Linked DNA regions of Homo sapiens: region 1 is linked to region 2. Evidence: fine-mapped expression QTL. A gene starts in region 2. The other region holds a variant in brackets. All regions are shown on one strand. Distances are from middle to middle.

Region 1 (8,632 bases), 31 kb after region 2:
CCAGAGACTGCCATCTGACACCCTCTCACCCTGTAATGCCCCAGGTGCCTCCTAGTCCCCCTCACGGGGCAGTAGCCTTTGGCCATTGGCCTCTGGCATCAAGGCACCCTGGCTTTAAGCCTTCGCGTGTAATTTTAGCAACTTTTCCTACTATGTACCTCAGTTTCTCCATCTATCAAATAGGAGGACCCCTAAAGGCCCATTTGGACTGCTCCAACCTCAGCCCAACTTTTTTTTTTTTGAGATGGAGTCTCGCTCTGTCGCCCAGGCTGGAGTGCAGTGGTACACTCTCGGCTCACTGCCACCTCTGCCTTCAGGGTTCAAGCGATTTTCCTACCTCAGCCTCCCAAGAAGCTACAGACATGCACCACCACGCTTGCTAATGTTTGTATTTTTAGTAGAGATGGGGTTTCCCCATGTTGGCCAAGCTGGTCTGGAACTCATGACCTCAAGTGATCCGCCCGCCTCAGCCTCCCAAAGTGCTGGGATTACAGGCGTGAGCACCCGGCCATCAGCCCAATTTTTATCCCAGTTCCTTGAACAGACCAAGTCCCTCCATCTACTTCTGAAACCAAAGAACCCCAAGCCTCCAAAGAAGGGAGGTTCTGCCTCAGGAACCTCCTTCCCTGCGGGAGAAGATCCTGCGCTTCAGCGCCCTGGACACAGAAGAAACCATCACTGGAGTTGAAGTCCCTGGAAGGGCAGACTTGGGTCTGAGGTGAAAACAAGATTCAGTTTTCATCGTTATGTTCATAATAATTTTAAAATAATGTCCTATGGTTTGGGGTACTTGACAGTTTAATAACATCTCCTATGCCAGGCACGGTGGCTCACACCTGTAATGCCAGCACTTTAGGGGGCCCAGGTGGGCAGAGCACTTAAGTCCAGGAGTTTGAGGCCAGCCTGGGCAACATAGTGACACCCAGTATCTGCAAAAAATACAAAAAATTAGCTGGGTGTGGTGGCGTGACACACCTGTAGTCCCAGCTACTTAGAAGGCTGAGGTGGGAGGATCACTTGAGCATGTTAAGCAGAGGTTGCAGTGAGCTGAGATTGCACCACTGCACTCCAGCCTGGAGAGAGTGAGACCCTGTCTCTCACACACTAAATAAATAAATAAAAACATCTATTTCTTATCCTAGATCCCACTGAGGCAGACATAATTGACATGCCCACTTAAGAGATGAGGAAATGGAGGCTCTGAGAGGTGTGGCCATAGTAGACCACACACTAAGTAAGAAAGATGGCTGGGACTAAAACCCTGGACTTTGCTTTTGACAACAGAGACTTGCCTAAAATATTCTGGTAAAAGAAACTATTTAAAAGCCATTGAGTGGCCAGGTGTGGTGTCTCATGCCTGTAATCCCAGCACTTTGGGAGGCCGAGGTGGGAGAATCACTTGAGGTCAGGAGTTCGAGACCAGCCTGGCCAACCAACATGGTGAAATCCTGTCTCTACTAAAAATACAAAAATTAGCCAGGCGTGGTGGCAAGTGCCTGTAGTCCCAGCTACTCAGGAGGCTGAGGCAGGAGAATCACTTGAACCCAGGAGGCAGAGGTTGCAGTGAGCTGAGATCATGCCACTGCACTCCAGCCTGGCAACACAGTGAGACTCCATCTCAAAAAAAAAAAAAAAATTATAGGCCAGGTACGGTGGGTCATGGTGGCCTGTAATCCTAACACTTTGGAAGGCCAAAATGGGAGGATTGCTTGAGGCCAGGAGTTTGAGACCAGCCTGGGCAACATGGCAAAACTCTGTCTCTACAAAAAAAAAAATTTTTTTTTGAGATGGAGTCTCACTCTGTCACCAGGCTGGAGTGCAGTGGTGTGATCTCGGCTCACTGCAACCTCTGCCTCCCGGGTTCAAGCAATTCTCCTGCCTCAGCCTCCCGAGTAGCTGGGACTACAGGTGAGCGCCACCATGCCCAGCTACGTTTTGTACTTTTAGTAGAGACGGGGTTTCACCATGTTGGCCAGAATGGTCTCGATCTCTTGACCTCATGATCCACCCGCCTTGGCCTCCCAAAGTGCTGGGATTACAGGCGTGCGCCACCACGCCCAGCCTCTACAAAAAATTTAAAAATTGAGCTAGGCGTAGTGGTACATGCTTGTAGTCCCAGCTACTCAGGAGGCTGAGGCAAGAGGATGGATTGAATGCAGGAACTTGAGGCTGCAGTAAGACGTGAATCATGCCACTGCACACCAGCGTGGGTGACAGAGCAAGACCCCGTCGCAAATAAAATAAAATAAAATAAAAATATAGGCCAGGCGCGGTGGTTCACACCTGTAATTCCAGCACTTGGGAAGGCCGAGGTGGGAGGATAACTTGAGGTCAGGAGTTCGAGACCAGCCTGGCCAACACAGTGAAATCCCGTCTCTACTAAAAACACAAAAAGTAGCCGGGTGTGGTGGCACACGCCTATAATCCCAGCTACTCAGGAGGCTGAAGCAGGAGAACTGCATGAACCCAGGAGGTGGAGGCTACAGTGAGCTGAGATCACACCACTGTACTCCAGCCTGGGCGACAGAGCAAGACTCCGTCTCAAAAAATATATACATACATATATTTATATATTATGTGCTTTATATTTTATATTTATTATATATAATACATTGTATTATATAATATGTATAAAAATATATCAAAGTAATGCATGTTGCTTGGTTTAAAAAGCCAATGGGAGGCCGGGTGTGGTGGCTCACACCTGTAATCCCAGCACTTTGGGAGGCCAAGGCGGGTGGATCATGAGGTCAAGAGATCGAGACCATTCTGGCCAACATGGTGAAACCCCATCTCTGCCAAAAAATACGAATATTAGCTGGGCATGGTGACGCGTGCCTGTAGTCCCAGCTACCTGGGAGGTTGAGGTGGGAGAATCTGAACCCGGGCGACGGAAGTTTGCAGTGAGCTGAGATCGAGTCACTTCACTCCAGTCTGGGCGACAGTGAGACTCTGTCTCAAAAACAAAACAAAACAACGACACAAAAAAGCCACTGGGAAGACTTATTTTTATTTATTTATTTATTTATTTATTTATTTATATTTTTGAGACGGAGTCTCGCTCTGTCTCCCAGGCTGGAGTGCAGTGGCACAATCTCGGCTCACTGCAAGCTCCACCTCCCGGGTTCACTCCATTCTTCTACCTCAGCCTCCCGAGTACCTGGGACTACAGGTGCACGCTGCCACGCCCGTAAGTTTTTGTATTTTTAGTAGAGATGGGGTTTCACCATGGTAGCCAGGATGGTCTCGATCTCCTGACCTCGTGATCCGCCCGCCTCGGCCTCCCAAAGTGCTGGGATTACAGGCGTGAGCCACCGCGCCCGGCCACCACTGGGAAGACTTATAATAAAAGGTTACAGTTCCTTGCCACATCCTCCCCACCCCAGCCCCACCTCCAGTCTATCTTCCCAGGGACAATCTATTTATTTGCTTTTTTTTTTTTTTTTTTTAAAGTTGTGTGTGTGTCTGTATTTTAATATTGATCCGGGGTCTCACTATGTTGCCCAGGCTCGTCTTGAGCTCCTGAGCTCAAGCAATCTGCTGCCTCAGCCTCCCAAAGTGCTGGGATTTACAGGCATGAGCCACTGAGCCCGGCCTTATTTGCATTATTTTTAGGCATGGAAAAGACGTAAACGGTTTGGGGAAAGCATATTTTAAATAGCTAAGATTCTGCACTTAGATCACTTTGGAAGTGTCCTTATGTGCCTGCTTTGCTTTTAGAGTTAACTAATGCACCAGCTTAATAGTCGCCTGGTTGAAAATTCTAAAAGTACAAAAAATTTACAGTAAAAAGTCTTCCCCTAACTCCTGTCCCCAGTGACACAGTTCCTCTCCCTGGGGACCTTCCTTGTTACCAGTTCTTGTTATCATTCTACAGGTGTCCTGTTTTACTGTTTCATTTTTAATTATTGTCATGGTTTCCTCCATGTCTCTCTATAAATTGTGCTTATGATGTTGTTATCGCTTCATATATCAACTCTAGCCTATCTATCTTCCTGCTGTGACCTTGATATGGCGACTTACTCCTTAAGTCCTTCTGAACTGCATCAATTTTTTTCAACCACTGATCAGTATTATTTTTTGAAAAATTAAAAATGGTTAAACTCGTTAAAGGGAGTTTATGTAACATCAAACAAACCAATAAACAAAACTTACTCTACGAGAATGGAGTACTAATATTTGGATTAAACCAGAGTTTTCATGTTAATTTAGAGAAATTCACAGCCTGATGCCCAGACACTACACTCCGGGCGTGGGCATACACGCCTTGCCTGTCCGGGAACGGCCGTCAACGCCCTTTTAAAAAAGACAGCGCCCACCCAGGACCCCGCCCCCTGGTGGTTAAAGATGTAAAC[TAA/A]GCCTCGTACTGCAACCTCCCCTTAAAGGGGAAACCCATTTCTGTCGTCTAAAAAGGGAGCAGTGGCTGCACCGCCTTTCCTTAAGGTAAAACTCGGCGCCCCTCTAGTTAAAAGGGTAAAGTACGCGCTGGGCCCCACCTCACCTGCGCGGTTACTTTGTACTCGGTGTAGCCCTTGGGGTGAGTCCTGGGGTCCGACACTGTGTAGTGCCGCAGGAAGTCATCCTTCGCCTGGCGGGACATGAAACCGAGCTGGAGCGGAGCGGAGCGCCGGCCTCCACCTCCTCGCCGTCCCCACCCCTCCGGCCCAGCCTCCGCCCGCCGCCGCCTCGCCAGGCCTGCGCTCTTCTTCCTCTGGCCTAGGGATTTTGTCGCAAGTGACAGCGCTGTTCCGATCCCGGGTGCGCGGCCAAGGGAGCGTCTGAAAAGTTCCTTCTCTGTGGTGAAGCGTAAACCCAGGTCACTGGAAAGATTGGTTGGGAAGGCTGGGATCACTCGTCTCATTTCTGCCGGGTGATCAAGCCCACCCTATCCAAGCGTAAACCCTTGTCACAGACTTCCAAACGACTTCTCCCCGCTTCCTAAATCCCTGCTTTCGTTCATCCACCCAACTCTTATTGTGTCCAGTATGTACAGGACAACGTCAAATTATTTCCCTGTCTCCCTCCACAGGATTCCCTAATTCATGTTTTCTGGAAAGTAGAGGAAGCAAAGAAGGTTGGAGAAGCAGGATGGTGTCATGGGCTCTGAGTCACGACTCTTACTAGCTGTAGGAGTTTCCCTTAACTACTCAGCCTCAGTTTCTCATCTGTAGAATGGAGATGTTTATAATAGAATCTGTGTAGGGCAGTGGAGCTTTTTTGCGATGGGTTTGCTGCCAGAACACAGGTGTCGTGAAAACCACCGTTAAATCAAAGCCAAAATGGGGGTTTGGCGCGGTGGTTCACGCCTGTAATCCCAGCATTTTGGGCAGTGGAGGCAGGTGGATCACTTGAGGTCAGGAGTTCAAGACCAGCCTGGCCAACATGGTGAAACCCCGTTTCTACTAAAAATACAAAAATTAGCTGGGCGTGGTGGCGCACGCCTGTAATTCCAGCTACTCCAGGGGCTGAGCTGGCTGATGGCTTCAGCCCAGGAGGTTGAGGCTGCAGTGAGCTGCAATCACACCACTGCACTCCAGCCTGGGCAACAGAGTGAGACTCCATCTCAAAAGAAAGGGAGCAGGGGAGGGAAAAGACTCAGCTCAACATCATCATCTGATTTGGGCAAGTCCAGCACTACTGGCCATCTGATCTACAAGTGTGGTGGGATCCACAAAAGAACCATCGACAATTTTGAGGAAGCTGCTGAGATGGGAAAGGGCTCCTTCAAGCATACCTGGGTCTTGGGTAAGCTGAAAGTTGAACGTGAGAGTGGTATCACCACTGATACCTCCCTGCTGGCAATTGAGACCAGCAAGTACTATGTGACCATCCTCAATGGCCCAGGATGCAGAGACTTTATCAAAAACCTGACCTCAGGCTAATTGTGCTGTCCTGATTGTTGCTGCTGGTGTTGATGAATTTGAAGCTGGTAATTCCAAGAATGGGCAGACGCGTGAGCACACCCTTCTGTCTTACACGCTGGGTGTGAAACTAATTGTTGGTGTTAACAAAATGGATCCCAATGAGCCACCCTAAAGAGGAGAGATGGGGGCCGGGCGTGGTGGCTCACGCCTGTAATCCCAGCAGTTTGGGAGGCAGAGGTGGGTGGATTAGGAAGTCAGGAGTTCAAGACCAGCCTGACCAAGATGGTGAAACCCCGTCTCTACTAAAAATACAAAAATTAGCTGGGCATGGTGGCGGGTGCCTGTAATCCCAGCTACTTGGGAGGCTGAGGCAGAGAATTGCCTGAAACCAGGAGGCAGAGGTTGCAGTGAGCTGAGATCGTGCCACTGCACTCCAGCCTGGGAGACAGAGGACAGAGTGAGACTCCGTCTCAAAAAAAAAAAAAAAAAAAAAAGGAGAGATGGGAGAAATCATTAAGGAAATCAGCACCTACATTAAGAAATTGGCTACAACTCTGACATAGTAGTATTTGTGCCAATATCTGGTTGGAGTGGTCACAACAGGCGGGAGCCAAGAGCTCACATGCCTTGGCTCAAGGGATGGAAAGTCACCTGTAAAGATGGCGATGCTGTGGAACCACGCTGCTCGGAAGCTCTAGATCACATCCTACCACCAACTCACAAGCTCTTGGTTCTGCCCCTCCAGACGTCCACAAAATTGGTGGTATTGGTACTGTCAGTGTGGGCCACGTGGAGACTGGTGTTCCCAAACCTGGCATGGGTTTTGAGACCTTTGCTCCAGTCAGTGTTAGAATTGAAGCAAAAATCTGTTGAAATGCAGCATGAAGTTGGTAGGCTTACATACAACACATAGTATTTACTGCAGAGGAAGCATTGTGAATAGCCACTCTTGTTCCTGGAATTCAGGTGTACAGGTGCGGTGCCTTGGTCTTCAGAAAGAAGCAAAGCCTGGCATGGGGCTCATGCCTGTAATCCCAGCACTTTGGGAAGCCAAGGCGGGAGGATCACTTGAGGCCAGGAGTTCAAGACCAGCCTGGGCAACAGGCTGCCTCTGATTTCATGAGAAATTTAAAAATTAGCTGGGGGCCAGGTGCAGTGGCTCATGCCTGTAATCCCAGCACTTTGGGAGGCCAAGTCGGGCGGATTACTTGATATCAGGAGTTCAAGACCAGCCTGGCCAACATGATGAAACCCCATCTCTACTAAAAATACAAAAATTAGCCAGGTGTGGTGTCGGGTGCCTATAATCCCAGCTACTCGGGAGAATGGGGCAGGAGAGTTGCTTGAACCCGGCAGGCAGAGATTGCACTTAACCTTCTGGAGGAAATGTCATCCAGGAGCCAGTCAATGCCAGGCAGTGGGTTCTCCCCAGCAGTGGGGCTGCAGCCCTTGACGTACCAGTGGTGGCTGCAGAGAGTCCAGATGCAGGGCTTGGGAGAACAAAGGTGCTGGTGGTGGCCAGTGACCGCAGACCCTTCCCTCCCTGCTCAAGGGTCAGCCCATCCAGGAAGCCTCCCCGGCCCCTGGGAGAGCTTATCTGTTCCCCGGGGCACCTGAGCTCTCTGTACAGTGCCACGCCAGTGCCACCCCTTAGTGTCCCATATAAGAGAGGATCCTGATAGGCGGCACTGCATAGGGCTGTCCCTAACTGTATTGCTGAATGGAATGGGTAGTACTTAGAACAGTGTAGGGAAAAGAGAGATCAGACTGTTACTGTATCTATGTAGAAAGGGAAGATAGAAGAAATTTCATCTTGACCTGTACCCTGAACAATTGCTTTGCCCTGAGATGCTGTTAATCTGTAACTTTGCCCCAGCCACTTTGCCCCAACCCCTTTGCCCCAACCTTGAGCTCACAAAAACATGTGTTGTATGGAATGAAGGTGTTTTTTTTTTTTTTTTTTGAGATGGAGTCTCGCTCTGTCGCCCAGGCTGGAGTGCAGTGGCGCCATCTCGGCTCACTGCAAGCTCCGCCTCCTGGGTTCATGCCATTCTCCTGCCTCAGCCTCCCGAGTAGCTGGGACTATAGGCGCCCACCACCACACCTGGCTAATTTTTTGTATTTTTAGTAGAGACGGGGTTTCACCGTGTTAGCCAGGATGGTCTCAATCTCCTGACCTCATGATTCGCCTGCCTCGGCCTCCCAAAGTGCTGAGATTACAGGCGTGAGCCACCACGCCCGGCCTTGGAATCAAGGTTTAAGGTCTAGGGCTGTGCAGGACGTGCCTTGTTAACAAAATGTTTACAGGCAGTATGCTTGGTAAAAGTCATCGCCATTCTCTAGTCTCAATAAACCAGGGGCACAATGCACTGTGGAAAGCTGCAGGGACCTCTGTCCTGGAAAGCCGGATATTGTCCAAGGTTTCTCCCCATGTGAGAGTCTGAAATATGGCCTCGTGGGATGAGAAAGACCTGACCGTCCCCCAGCCCGATACCCATAAAGGGTCTGTGCTGACGTGGGTTAGTAAAAGAGGAAAGCCTCTTGCACTTGAGATAGAGGAAGGCCACTATCTCCTGCCTGCACCTGGGAACTGAATGTCTCGGTATAAAACCAGATTGTACATTTGTTCAATTCTGAGATAGGAGAAAAACCGCCCTATGGTGGGAGGCAAGACATGTTGGCAGCAATGCTGCCTTGTTATTCTTTATTCCACTGAGATGTTTGGGCAGAGAGAAACATAAATCTGGCCTACGTGCACATCCAGGCAT
Region 2 (8,632 bases):
ATGATTTTGTGTGGACTTGGTGCATTCCATGTGTTGGCGACTGTTATCTGATCTCCAGTGGATCTACCCTGGCCCCCAAACTGGCTTTGCAGGCCCAGTGGGAGCAGCTCTGAGTACCAGTGTTCCCAGCAGGCTCCCTTCCCCACTAAAGGGCCTGGTATTCCTGCCCAAGAGGGTGGCCAGACCCTGCAGCCTGGCAGGGCCTTCCTCCATCCTGCAACGTCATCCTTTGGGAACACCCAGCACTGAAAGTCTGTTAGATCCCATCCCCATCTTGTGAGGGCACCTGCGCCTGTTACGCAGGTGTCCTATGCATGGCTGCCTTGGCAGTCTGGTGGGGCTTACCCAGAGGGGATCTGCTTCCCAGGGGTCTCGTGCCCACCTTTTACATCTCTTATTGCTCTGAACACCCCTTGGACAGAAGACAGCTGGAGCAGGAGTGTTGAGTTGCTGTGCTGGCGTAGGTCAGCTTTGCCTCCAATCTACAAATACTTGTTGAGTGCCTCATAGGTGCCGGGCACTGCTCTGGACTCTGGGGCTTCGGCAGTGAATAAAACAAAGATGTCTGCCCTGGTAGAACTTACGCTCTGGGAGGGGCAGCAAGAAATAATGAACAAGTAACATGAGGATAGATGCAATGGAGAAAAATGAAGCCACAGAGGAAGAGGAAGCCTGAGGGAGGGGGAGGAATGCAATTTTATTTTATTTATGTATTTTTAAACATGGATTCTCACTATGTTGCCCAGGCTGGTCTTGAACTTCTGGACTCAAGCGATCTTCCTGCCTCAGCCTCCCAAAGTGTTGGGATTATAGGTATGAGCCACTGCACCCAGCCAGGAATGCAATTTCAGATAGAGTAGTCAGGGAAGAGCTCATTGAGAAGTGACATTTGAGCAAAGACACAAAGGACCTGAGGGAAGGAGCCCTGTGGACAGCTGGGGAGCAGGGTTCTAGGGAGCGGGAGCTGCCAACACAAAGGCACTGAGTCAGGAGTGTGCCTGGTAGGCTCAGGGGACAGTAGCAGGCCAGAGCTACAGGAGCCGTGAGTGAGGAGGACAGGGAGGGGACCGGGTCTGAGACATGAAGGGCTCTATGGCCACTGTCATGACTGTTACTCTGAGTGTAAAGGGAGACTTGGAGGGCTGTGAGCACGGTCGTGACATGGCGGACCTGGGTTTCACAAAGATGAGTCTGACTGCTATGTAGAGAAAAAAACTAGAGGGGACAAGAATACAATCAGAGAGGCCAGTTAAGAGGCCACTGCAGGCTGGGCACGGTGGCTCTCGCCTGTAATCCCAGCACTTTGGGAGGCCAAGGCGGGCGGATCACCTGAGGTTGGGAGTTTGAGACCAGCCTGACCAACATGGAGAAACCCTATCTTTACTAAAAACACAAAATTAGCTGGGCATGGTGGCGCATGCCTGTGATCCCGGCTACTCAGGAGGCTGAGGCAGGAGAATCACTTGAACCTGGGAGGCAGAGGTTGCGGTGAGCCGAGATCGCGCCATTGCACTCCAGCCTGGGCAACAAAAGCGAAACTCTGTCTCAAAAAAAAAAAAAAAAAAAAAAATTAGGCAGCTGGAAATACAAGAGTTCGGGGATGGGTTAGATTGGAGACATATACTTGCGGGTTTCTGGTCTATATTTAGTCATTTGTATTGGTTCTCCATTTTGCTGTGGTTTTTTTTGTTTTTTTTTTTTTTTTTTCTTGAGACGGAGTCTCACTCTGTCACCCAGGCTGGAGTGCAGTGGCGCTATCTCGGCTCACTGCAAGCTCTGCCTCCCAGGTTCACGCCATTCTCCTGCCTCAGCCTCCAGAGTAGCTGGGACTACAGGTGCCCGCCACCACGCCCGGCTAATTTTTTTGTATTTTGAGTAGAGACGGGCTTTCACCATGTTAGCCAGGATGGTCTTGATCTCCTCACCTCATGATCCGCACGTCTCCGCCTCCCAAAGTGCTGGGATTATAGGCGTGAGCCACCGCGCCTGGCCTATTTTGCTCGGTTATAATCACTCCAAAACCTAGTAGCCCAAAACCATAAACATGTATTATCTCACACAGTGTCCACAGGTTAAGAATCTGAAAGTGGCTTGGTTGGGTGGTACTGGCTGAGGGACTCTCGTGAGGCTGCAGTCAAGATTCCAGCAGGGGCCGCTGTATTCTGACGGCTTGGCTGGTGCTGGAGGACCCATTTCCAAGTTGGTTTATTCACAGGGCTGGCAAGTTAGTGCTGAATGTTGGCAGGAGGCTTTAGCGCCTCACCATGAGGCCTGTCCACAGGGCTGCTTGAGTGTCTTCACAACATGGTGTCCGGGAGGCCACGTGACTCTGCAGGCACATCCAGGGGCAAGGGTGCAGGCGCAGAAGAAGCAGAAAGTGAGTCAGAAGTAACCAGAATGGTGTTTTCCCAGTGGATGTGACCAAAGCAGAGAGGATTGGGGGTTAAGAGGGCTTCCAGGGCCTCAAACTGGGCAAGGTGAGTACACGTGGGAGGTGAAGGAGGGTGGGACGGAGGCAAGTGTGTGGGGCAGGTGGAGAGTGGGGAGGGAGCCAGCAGCAGTGCATTGCTGGTCCTGGAGGATTGAAGACCCCTTGGACCCAGAGCCATTGGGAGAATAAGGCAGGAAAATGAAAGGTGTTCATGTGCTCTAACTACCGTAAGTTATTTCTAGGAACTCCCACAATCCAGAATGTTCTGGGAGGGGCCATACCACCCACACAGCAAAGATGAAGGAAAGAAAATTGACTAAGTTAACGTCTGGTGCCTACAGCCATGTAGACACCAGTGGATTCCAACAGCCTGAGTGGATCTCTTGGGTGTCACACACACAGCTGTTTACACACTCTCCAACACAAACCACAGTCCCAGGTGTTATCACTCAGATGTCACACACTTTTGTCCAGGCGTCCTGTTTGTGACTTCACATGATTGAGGGGTTAAATCCTTCCAGGAGTGGGTGGGGTAGGACCATGGGGTTGCTGCCTCAGTCCCTCAACTTATCAGCTGACCTTGGCATCCCACTCCCCACCTGGTGGTGACTGTCCTGTGTCCTCATAAGGAAGGTGTATGCTCCCTGCACCGATGGGCTTCTGATAAGATCCAAGGTCATATTCTGGGCGTCGATAATCACGTTGCCAAGAACTGTGGCTTCCTGGTGCACCTCCCTGAAGTCACTGATCACATGACATCCCTTCCCAGCCACCCCTAGTCCTCCCATGCTGAACCTCCTCACCAGCAGCACAAGAGATGGTGGTGCCAGCAAAATGGGGTTGTGAGCAGGAAGGAGGCTGCTCTGAGAGGGGTCTGTGAAATCACACACACACACATGCACGTGCACACACACACACACACACACACACGCTCTGCCCTGATCCAGCCCCCAAGCTCTGCAGGCATCTTTGAGCCCATCCATGGGCTGCAACCTGCGAGGCAGAGTCAAGGCAGGATAGGCCATGGGAGGGTGGGAGAAGTCCCAGCTCAAGTCCCTAGGGACCCCCCCAGCCCCTCCTGGCTCTCCGTGAGGTCTGGAAGAGGCTCAGTATGTGTATGGCATACTTGGGGTCTCACTTCCCTCTCAGCCCTTGCAAATGCTGGAACACCTTTTCAGCCTTGGAGGACCCCCTCAGATGTTCCCTCCTAGTCAGAACTCCTCACTCTTTCACTGGGAGCATGGTGATCCTCCCTCTACAGGGCACTTACCACATGGCTGAACCTAAAGCCTGTCTGCCTCGCCTGCTGGATTTTGCTTCCCCACAGCCTTGCATGGCTCTAGTATAGCACAGAATGAACAGTGCTTGCATGTATAAAGGAAGGAATGAATAAGTGAATGGAGGGATGGGTGGATGGATAAATAGGAGGGTGGATGACGGAGTCCAGGCAGAGCCAGGGGATAGAAGAGGAAGTCACCTCGCCAGGGAGGCATGGGCTTCCCCTGCTGCCTCCTCTGGGACAGCCTCCCTTCCCAGGACTCCCATTCCTCGTATCGCTGGGCTCCCTTCAGGATAGACACAGAGAGTTCTTCTGGGTCCTCCTTCTTCCTTTAGCTCTAGGCCTTACATTTTCCAGAGTCAGATGAGGGATGAGTAGTTAAAATTGATGAGCTCCCACTACATGTCAGACACTGCACTAGCTATTTCTACAGATGCCATATTGTTTAATGAAAATGACACCATAGCCGGCACGGTGGCTCACTCCTGTCATCCCAGCACTTTGGGAGGCTGAGGCGGGTGATCACCTGAGATCAGGAGTTTGAGACCAGCCTGGCCAACATGGTGAAACCCCATCTCTACTAAAAATACAAAAATTAGCTGGACATGGTGGTGCACACCCGTAATCCCAGCTACTCGGGAGGCCGATGCAGGAGAATCACTTGAGCCCGGGAGGTGGAGGTTGCAGTGAGCCGAGATCACACCACTGGACTCCAGCCTGGGTGTCAGTGGAAGACACAGTCTAGAAAAAAAAAAAAGAAAACAGGTGTAGAGAAGCTGAGTGGATTGCCCAAGGTCACACAGCTTACGTCCAGCAAGAAGGGGGATCTCAACTCAAAATCTGCTCAGGCAGGTAGGGCTGGGTATGCTGTAGATCGGCTGCCTTGGAGGGAGGCAGAGGCAGTGAGGGTGGGCAGTGGGCACGGCCCTGCTGTGAACACAGGAGCTCTGAGTTCCAGCCCTGGCTTGGCCTCTGTTTTCCTGGGACACCCTGGATGAGCCCCTTCCCTCTCGGCTTCAGTGTCCCTGGGTGACCTTGCTGCCCTTGGAGAGCCATTCCAGGCAAATGGTGCAGGATGTGGTGGATGTGGATGGCTCCTGGCTCTCACTGCGGGATGTTCCCTCACTCTCCCTGCCAGCTGGGGGTCAAAGGGCAGTGCCACCCATGGGGTAATGTTTAACCAGGCACAACACCCCCTCTATAGGGAATAACCTATAGACCAGTCCTACCCCAGCTGGCCAAGAGTCCGCAGGATGCAGTGGACGAAGGTGTTGGGGCTGGGGCTGGGGGCTGCTGCCCTCTTGGGGCTGGGGATCATCCTCGGCCACTTTGCCATCCCCAAAAAAGCCAACTCACTGGCCCCCCAGGACCTGGACCTGGAGATCCTGGAGACCGTCATGGGGCAGCTGGATGCCCACAGGATCCGGGAGAACCTCAGGTGAGAAGTGGGGCCATCTGCTCCTCCGTTTGCCAGAGGCCCCCTCCCTGATGCTGGCCCTGCCCCTCCCTCTGCCCACCCTGCAGAGAACTCTCCAGGGAGCCACACCTGGCCTCCAGCCCTCGGGATGAGGACCTGGTGCAGCTGCTGCTGCAGCGCTGGAAGGACCCAGAGTCAGGCCTGGACTCGGCCGAGGCCTCCACGTACGAAGTGCTGCTGTCCTTCCCTAGCCAGGAGCAGCCCAACGTCGTGGACATCGGTGAGGTCCTGCCCAGTCTTGGGAATGCCCGGGGGTGGGGAGCTGCTGGGCCCAGCCATGATACTGCCACCCCTCCAACAGTGGGCCCCACTGGGGGCATCATCCACTCCTGCCACCGGACTGAGGAGAACGTGACCGGGGAGCAAGGGGGGCCAGATGTGGTACAACCCTATGCTGCCTATGCTCCTTCTGGAACCCCACAGGTGGGCCCAGAACCCCCCCTACTGCTCTGGCCCAGCTCCCTTGGTTCCACCCAGGGTTCTCCCCACCCTGACCCAGGGAACGTGCCTCAACTGGGGCACAGCGCGCCCTCCGGAATTTACTCACCGGGACACTCCATCGCTGCTCCTTTCCTCCATCAGTCATTCAACAAACACTAGTGGCTCTGCTCAAGGCCAGGTCTGTTACAGGGCACCCAGACATGGAGGAAATGAGGGGTGACTGTTCTTGGGGAGCTTACAAGCTCTGGGTGAGGTGGGGGAACAGAATCTAAATTCTCCCTCCTGCCATGCAAACTTCCACCCCCCTTCCCCACCCACACTTCGCTGGGCCCAGCTCTAAGGATCACCCCCTCTTGGGACTAGGGCCTCCTCGTCTATGCCAACCGGGGCGCGGAAGAAGACTTTAAGGAGCTACAGACTCAGGGCATCAAACTTGAAGGCACCATTGCCCTGACTCGATATGGGGGTGTAGGGCGTGGGGCCAAGGTGAGTGGCAGTCCCCCAGTGCAGGAGGCCTCGGTGAGGAAGGGGCTGGGCAGTGGACTGGAGGAAGTGAGGGGAAGGGGAAGGAGAAGAGGCAGTGTTGAGTGGGGAACCAAGCCCCAGGGTGGGGCAGGAAAGGCAAGGTGTTTTCGGGTTGTCCCACCAATGGGCTGTGTGGCCTCGGATGCCTCCCTGACCCTCTCTGAGCTGTAGGAAATAAAGGGGTTGAGTACAATTTTCAGGTTTGGTATTCCAGAAGTCTAAGTCCTCCTGTGAAATAGTTTTGAATATTCAACTTAAGTCCCTCCTGTTGGCCCTCTCCCTGCCATTTCTTTTCCATCAAAAATTCTGACTAGGGGCCGGGCGCTGTGGCTCACGCCTATAATCCCAGCACTTTGGGAGGCCGAAGTGGGCAGATCACCTGAGGTCAGGAGATCAAGGCCAGCCTGGCCAACATGGTGAAACTCCATCTCTACTCAAAATACAAAATTAGCCACACATGGTGGTGCATGCCTGTAATCCCAGCTACTGGGGAGGCTCAGGCAGATGAACTGCTTGAACCTGGGAGGCAGAGATGGTAGTGAGCTGAGATTGCACCACTGCACTCTCCAGCCTGGGAGACATCGAGACTCTGATTTAAAAAAAAAAAAAAAAAAAAAAAGGCTGGGCATGGGCGTGGTGGCTCACGCTTGTAATCCTAGCACTTTGCGGGGCCAAGGCAGGCGGATTGCCTGAGTTCAGGAGTTCAAGACCAGCCTGGGCAACACGGTGAAACCCCATCTCTACTAAAATACAAAAAAACAAAAATTAGCTGGGTGTGGCAGCGTGCACCTGTAGTCCTAGCTACTCAGGAGGCTGAGGCAGGAGAATTGCTTGAACCCAGGAGGTGGAGGTTGCAGTGAGCCAAGATTGTGCCACTGCACTCCAGCCTGGGTGACAGAGCGAGACTCCATCTCTAAAAACAAAAAACAAACAAACAAACAAAATTAATATAAAAAGAGTAGAATGAGAGAGGGGAAGGGATAGTTGGTATTTAATGGGGACCGAGTTTCGGATTTGTCAGATGAAGAGTTCTAGAGATGAATGGTGGTGATGTTGCACAATATGGATGTACTGAATGCCACTGAACTGCATACTCCACATGCTAAGTTTATGTTATGTGTATTTTACCACAATTTTTTTAAAAGTGGGCTGGACGCGGTGGCTCATGCCTGTAATCCCAGCACTTTCGGAGGCCAAGGCAGGTGGATTACCTGAGGTCAGGAGTTCGAGACCAGCCTGGCCAACATGGTGAAACCCTGTCTCTACTAAAAATACAAAAAATAGCCGCTCATGGTGGCAGGCACCTGTAATCCCAGCTACTCAGAGGTTGAGGCAGCAGAATCACTTGAACCCAGGAGGCAGAGGTTGCAGTGAGCCGAGATCATGCCATTGCACTCCAGCCTGGGGGACAAGAGCAAGACCTCATCTCAAAAAAAAAAAAAAAAAGGTGTCCATAATAAGAGCTGGGAAAAGAGAAAGAAAGAAGGAAGGTGGAGAGAAAGGAAGGAAGAAAAGAAAGGGAAAAAAGGAAAAGAAAAAGAAAGGGGAACAAGCAGTGTAGAAATACACAGATTATTAATTAACCATCACCACTACCCATTTCCAGAACCTTTTCATCATTTCAAACAGAAACTTTATTTAACAATAACTCCCCAGGTCCCTGCCCCAGCCCCTATTCTATTTTCTGTAACCTCAATTCTACTTTCTGTCTCTATGAATTTGCCTATTCTAGGTACCTCGCATAAGTGAAAGTATAAGATATTTGTCTTTTTATGTCTGGCTTATTTCACTTAACATAACATCTTCAAGGCTCATTGATGTATCAGAACTTTCTTTCTTTTTAGGCTGAATAATATTCCATTGTTTTTTGTTTGTTTGTTTGTTGGGGTTTTTTTGAGACAGAGTCTTGCTCTGTCACCTAGGCTGGAGTGCAGTGGCATGATCTCAGCTCACTGCAACCTCCACCTCCCAGGTTCAGGCGATTCTCGTGCCTCAGCCTCCCAAATAGCTGGGACTACAGGTGTGTACCACCACACCTGGCTAATTTCTGTATTTTTAGTAGAGACAAGGTTTCACCATGTTGGCCAGGCTGGTCTTGACCTCAGGTGATCTACCTGCTGGTCTTGACCTCAGGTGATCCCACCTCAGGTGATCTGCCTGCCTCAGCCTCCCAAAGTGTTGGGATTACAGGCGTGAGCCACCCCACCCGGCCTCCATTGTATGTTACAGCCCACATTTGGTTTAGCCATTCATCTGTTGATGGACACTTGGGCTATTTCCTCCTTTTGGCCGTTGAGGATAATGCTGCTGTGGACATGAGTACACAACTGTGTTATTTTATGCAGCTTCATGGTATTCCACTGTAGGATGTCCCTGTTATTCAACCAGACTCCACTGATAGGCACGGGCTTGGCTGTGCCGAACTGGCCTTTACTGTTGCAAGAGGCACTGCCATAAATGACTTGTGCAAACGTCATCT

What was found.
Region 1: its variant is fine-mapped to the expression of NAALADL1 in whole blood (TOPMed, PIP above 0.99).

The regions. Positions count from the first base shown.
Region 1 is chr11:65,023,506-65,032,137 of GRCh38, reverse strand. SNX15 (sorting nexin 15) reads right to left here and starts at 4,699. Exons shown (of 8, transcript NM_013306.5): 1 at 4,502-4,699. The coding sequence starts at 4,600. It overlaps ARL2-SNX15 (ARL2-SNX15 readthrough (NMD candidate)), which reads right to left. Exons shown (of 11, transcript NR_037650.2): 4 at 4,502-4,820. It also overlaps the pseudogene EEF1A1P18. RefSeq lists a silencer at 4,568-4,737 and an enhancer at 4,587-4,881. The variant TAA/A (reference allele first, on the strand shown) is at 4,356.
Region 2 is chr11:65,054,853-65,063,484 of GRCh38, reverse strand. NAALADL1 (N-acetylated alpha-linked acidic dipeptidase like 1) reads left to right here and starts at 4,932. Exons shown (of 18, transcript NM_005468.3): 1 at 4,932-5,148; 2 at 5,235-5,407; 3 at 5,489-5,610; 4 at 5,992-6,114. The coding sequence starts at 4,964. It also overlaps a transcript of CDCA5 not described here.